Regions from separate parts of the Homo sapiens genome. Here region 2 is linked to region 1. The links come from fine-mapping of genetic effects on gene expression. A gene starts in region 1. The other region holds a variant in brackets. All regions are shown on one strand. Distances are between the middles of the regions.

Region 1 (2,913 bases):
TAAAAACCCTTCAATGGTTCACTAATGTCTTGCAGATTAAATTCAAACTCCTTGGTGTGCTAAACAAAGCACTCAAATATCTGGCCCCTTCTACGCGCTTATCGCTCATCATACCCTCTCTTGCATTCACTTAGCTGGTGGTATCAAACTTCTCAACAGTTCCCTACACAAGAGCCTGTTTATTGATCCTTCAGCCTGGAATTACTTCCCTTACCCGACTCAAGACTCTAGCGCCACCTTTGCTATGAAGTCTCTCTTGACCATACTCACAGATAGAACTGATTGTTCCTTTGTGTGTATGCCCACACCCTTACAGGCCTGGATCTTAAGTCTGTTATCACTGCGTTGCGCTTATTTACAAGTATCCGCTGTCCCACCCACGCTCCACTTAGGCCTCTTTATACCCCTAGGTACTCACACAGAGCTTGGCACAAGTGATGCTTTATAAATGGTCAATGAATGAACGTAGTGGAAACACAGAAGAAGAGGGAGAAGAACTGGGGAAGAAAGAAGCTCTGTGGAGAGAATACTAATTGTTTTGCACATGAAAATAATGAGTTGTGAGGGAGGTCAAAAAGGTCAAAGGGAAGAGCCCTGCCTTACAGGAACTCACTGTCTGCTGGGAGGCAAGAGGTAAGGTCCGCATACCAAACACACGAAGCAATGAGCTTATCGGGGTGAAAATGGCTCGTGCACATTATAGTATCACAGAAACTTAGAGGCTGGGGGAGGATGGAGAGGAAACTGGCCTAGTCAAGTGTCTTCTAAGTGTTAGGCGGTTTTCGAGCGTTAAACAGTTTAATCTTTACAACCACCCCATGATGAGGATAGTAGCTCCATTTTAGGGACGAAGAAACATGCTCAGAGAATTTAGGTTGCCCAATGTCACAAACTACCATGTGGAAGGACCATAATTAGAATTTAGGTCAACTGCCTCCAGAGCCCTGAGGCTTTCGCTCCCCCTCTCTCGGCGGTCGAGACCCACAGGGCTCCCATTCACCTGCGCGTCGGCCTGCGCTAGCTATAGCCCTCAGGCGCGCCGCGTTCCGCGCACTCACACCACCCTCTGCGCGCCAGCCCTGCGTCCCTCCCACGCGAACTGCGCCGGCGCGTCCAGCCCTCCCGCCCGGGGGAGGGGCGGGGTTGCGTCGCTGCCGCTGACCCTTGAGCGCGCGGCGGCAGAGGCGGTGTCCAGGCTTCCGGGCGGGTAGTCCTTCGGCTCCGGAGCCGCGACTGCGCTCGCCTAGGTGGTGGGCGGGGAGGGAAGGAAGGGAGCGGGCGCAAGGCGGCGGCGGCGGCTGCGGGTGAGGAACTTGTTGCGCCCGCGGCTGCGCGGTGCCCCTCCCTCCGCTCCAGTTCGTCGGGGCGGGCGCGGCGGCGGCGGCGAAGGAGGAGCGCGGCCGGGGCGATGCGGCGCTACCTGCGCGTCGTGGTGCTGTGTGTGGCCTGCGGCTTCTGCTCGCTCCTTTACGCTTTCAGCCAGCTCGCCGTGTCCCTGGAAGAAGGAACGGGCGGCGGTGGCGGGAAGCCGCAGGCCGCGGTGGCTTCCTGGCTCGCGGGCGGCGGACGCGGCGCCGTGAGAGGCGCCGGCGTCGCGGGCCCCGCAGCGCATCCCGGCGTGTCGGACAGGTACGGGCAGTTCCCGGTGTGGGGGACGCGGCGGGCGCGGGGCGCTGGGCGCGGGCTCGGCCTAGCCCGGGCTGCTCGCCGGTGGGTGCCGCGTCTCCCGCGTCTTTCCTCCTGTCTCTGACCCCTCACTCATTTCCCTCCTTCCCCTCCGGCCGGGGCTAAACCTGCGCTGCTCCCGCCTGAGAGTGTCCTACACTTTCTGTGTTTATCTTTTGACCCAGTCATGCGCCCTTTAAAGCAGTTAGAAATTAATTTTCAACTTTTTAAAAAGAGGGTTCTTTGAAAATAAGAGGTGTCCACAAAAGCCTTACTGCTGCCTGGCTAGTGAGAATTTCCTCTTGTTTCAGTGGAGTTCAAGTTGAGATATTTAAACATGAGGCTGGCGCCCTAGTTCAGTGTTTAAGGATTGTGTGTGTGTGTGTGAGTGTATATGTGTGTGTATTTTGTCCCTCATGCTGATTTTCCTGTGTTAACGCTTACACTTCTAAGTATTAGCCATGGTTAGTTAAATTTGGAAATGGCATTTGTGCGGGTTGTGAAATTTTCTTTTGGAAACACTCAGTTTATTAAGAAACTTAGAGCAAATTAAGAAAAATGAGCGATACTTGGCGTGCTCAAGTCTGTTGTTGGATGGGATGGAGTTACCTTTCTTGACAAATTGGTATTTAAAAAGCGACGTAATGACTTAGGACGTAATCACTGCCAGAGTGGGAATCAACATGAGATTTAAATAGAAAAAAAATGTTTCTGTCAACGCATTATGAATGCTTGAAATCTGAGCGTTTGCACTGCCTTGCAACATGGACACTTCCACCTTATGTATGGGCATCTCTCTGGGAATGACCTGAAGTGCTCCCTACCAAGACTTGGCAAATGCTGCTTTGATATAGAGAAGTATAGGGTTTGTCGGAAGAGGGAGTATAGATCAGTTGTGGGCTGTTGTTTAACATCATTTTGAGAGTCGATGGTCATTCCCAGAATGAAAGGGGAAAGTTTGGGCAGAGGAGCAGCGTGGAAAGCGGACTTGTCATGTTTTTACCCTGAGATTTGATTACAGTCAGGGTAATTCCTACATCAGGACCCTCAGTTGTCTGTCCTGGGAGAAAGCAGTCACTGAAGACTTGAATGAGCTCGTGAAAAATGACAGGTTGAAGCTAAACTGTTTATGGCCTAGTATGTTATTGTGAAGCATTTGCAATTATGGAAAAGGAATTATTTTTATATGGGGTAGAATTGTAAGGAAGCAACATTTTAATTAAATATTGAATGAAATTAGACTGATGT
Region 2 (2,913 bases), 81 kb after region 1:
CCTCTGGCTGCCCTTAAGATTTTTTCCTTCATTTCAACTTTGGTGAATCTGACAATTCTGTGTCTTGGAGTTGCTCTTCTCGAGGAATATCTTTGTGGCGTTCTCTGTATTTCTTGAATTTGAATGTTGGCCTGCCTTGCTAGATTGGGGAAGTTCTGCTGGATAATATCCTGCAGAGTGTTTTCCAACTTGATTCCATTCTCCCTGTCACTTTCAGGTACACCAATCAGACGTAGATTTGGTCTTTTCACATAGTCCCATATTTCTTGGAGGCTTTGTTCGTTTCTTTTTATTCTTTTTTCTCTAAACTTCTCTTCTCGCTTCATTTCATTCGTTTCATCTTCCATCACTGATACCCTTTCTTCCAGTTGATCGCATCAGTTACTGAGGCTTCTGCGTTCGTCACGTAGCTCTTGTGCCTTGGTTTTCAGCTCCATCAGGTCCTTTAAGGACTTCTCTGCATTGGTTATTCTATTTATCCATTCATCTAATTTTTTTTCAAAGCTTTTAACTTCTTTGCCATTGGTTCGAATTTCCTCCTGTAGTTCGGAGTAGTTTGATCGTCTGAAGCCGTCTTCTCTCAACTCATCAGAGTCATTCTCCACGAAGCTTTGTTCTGTTGCTGGTGAGGAGCTGCGTTCCTTTGGAGGAGGAGAGATGCTCTGATTTTTAGAGTTTCCTGTTTTTCTGCTCTGTTTTTTTCCCATCTTTGTGGTTTTATCTACCTTTGGTCTTTGATGATGGTGACGTACAGAGGGGTTTTTGGTGTGGATGTCCTTTCTGTTTGTTAGTTTTCCTTCTACCAGACAGGACCCTCAGCTGCAGGTCTGTTGGAGTTTGCTAGAAGTCCACTCCAGACCCTGTTTGCCTGGGTATCAGCAGCGGTGGCTGCAGAACAGCAGATATTGGTGAACCGCAAATGCTGCTGCCTGATGGTTCCTCTGGAAGTTTTGTGTCAGAGGAGTACCCGGCCGTGTAAGGTGTCAGTCCGCCCCTACTGGGGGGTGCCTCCCAGTTAGGCTACTCGGGGGTCAGGGACCCACTTGAGGAGGCAGTCTGCCCATTCTCAGATCTCCAGCTGCATGCTGGGAGAACCACTACTCTCTTCAAAGTGGTCAGAGAGGGACATTTAAGTCTGCAGAGGTTACTGCTGTCTTTTTGTTTGTCTGTGCCCTGCCCCCAGAGGTGGAGCCTACAGAGGCAGGCAGGCCTCCTTGAGCTGTGGTGGGCTCCACCCAGTTTGAGCTTCCTGGCCACTTTGTTTACCTAATCAAACAACTAACTTGGCAATGGTGGATGCCCCTCCCCCAGCCTCGCTGCTGCCTTACAGTTTGATCTCGGACTGCTGCGCTAGCAGTGAGCCAGACTCCGTGGGCATAGGACCCTCTGAGCCAGGTGAGGGATATAATCTCCTGGTGTGCCGTTTTTTAAGCCCATTGGAAAAGCGCAGTATTAGGGTGGGAGTGACCCAATATTCCAGGTGCCATCTGCCACCCCTTTCTTTGACTAGGAAAGGGAATTCCCTGACCCCTTGCGCTTCCCAGGTGAGGCAATGCCTCGCCCTGCTTTGGCTCGCGTGCAGTGCGCTGCACTCACTATCCTGTGCCTACTGTCTGCCACTCCCCAGTGAGATGAACCCAGTACCTCAGTTGGAAATGCAGAAATCACCTGTCTTCTGCATCGCTCACGCTGGGAGCTGTAGACCAAAGCTGTTCCTATTCGGCCATCTTGGCTCCTCC[G/A]AGAAATGATTTTTTTTTGAGAGGGGGTCTCACTTTGTCACCCAGGCTGGAGTGCAATGGTACGATCTTGGCTCACTGCAACCTCTGCCTCCCTGGCTCAAACAATCCTCCTATCTCAGCCTCCTGAGTAGCTGGGACCACAGGTGTGTGCCACCATACCCAGCTAACTTTTTGTATTTTTGATAGAGATGGGGTTTCACCATGTTGCCCAGGCTGGTCTCAAACTCTTGAGCCCAAGTGATCCACCCACCTAGGCCTCCCAAAGTCCTGGGATTACAGGCATGACCCACCATGCCTGGCCCCGAGAAATGATTTTAAAAAGTAGCAAATGTGAATTTGAATGTGAGTCAACAAGCTTCATGTATCTGAAAAGTGAATATTGAATGATAGCTCGAATAATCCATGCTTATCACAAAAGAGAATTGAACTCTCAGTCATATACCTGTAACCTAAATACTGAACTATCTTGATGGAGATGTAACAAAGTAAGATGGTTACATCTTTAAACTTATATGATCAAGTTGATAATTTTCTTTTAAATGAGAAAAAAGAAGATAGAAGCTTATTCTCTCACATAAATGTAGTCAAAGCTGATTTGGAAGTTCTGTTATTATCAGGGACTCAATCTCCTTCTAGCCTGCTCCTTGGTCATTCCTAACAAATAGCTTCCACCAGTAGTATAAGAATGCCATTCTGGTTCCATCTACCATCTCCTTTTTAGCTATGGAGAAAAAAAATGGAAGGAAAAGGGCCTGCTTTTAGCTTTTAATAAAACTTTTGGGGAGTACCATCAATTACTTCTACTTACATACTTTTGGCCCAAAGCTTAGTCACATGGACACATCTAGCTAGAATGAAAGTTGGAAAATTTTTACATATTCTGGATCTTCATGGGTCCAGATAGAATTTGTCATGTTTACTACAGAAGGCAAAGGAGAAGGAGAAGGAGAAGAAGAAGAAAAAGAAGAAGGAGGAGGAGGACAGAAAGAAGAAGAAAGCTATTGAAGGGCAACAATCAGTGTCCCATCTTGCACACCTAAAAAATGTGTTTGTTCTAGAGTTCCCATGTTGGATAATTTGGCTGTGTATAGAACTCTAATTTGGACAGCAACTGTCCTTTAAATGTGGAAGGCATATGTTCTATTGTCTTCTAAATTGTAATATTGTTATTGAG

What was found.
Region 2: its variant is fine-mapped to the expression of GXYLT1 in fibroblasts (GTEx, PIP above 0.99). The same link has a PIP of 0.9 or more in subcutaneous fat.

Annotation. Positions count from the first base shown.
Region 1 is chr12:42,143,142-42,146,054 of GRCh38, reverse strand. It overlaps GXYLT1 (glucoside xylosyltransferase 1), which reads left to right and starts at 1,181. Exons shown (of 8, transcript NM_173601.2): 1 at 1,181-1,629. The coding sequence starts at 1,409. RefSeq lists an enhancer at 754-823 and silencers at 984-1,483, 1,564-1,793.
Region 2 is chr12:42,061,807-42,064,719 of GRCh38, reverse strand. No RefSeq gene overlaps it. Among named protein-coding and RNA genes, the nearest start is that of GXYLT1, 82 kb to the left of the region's middle. The variant G/A (reference allele first, on the strand shown) is at 1,740.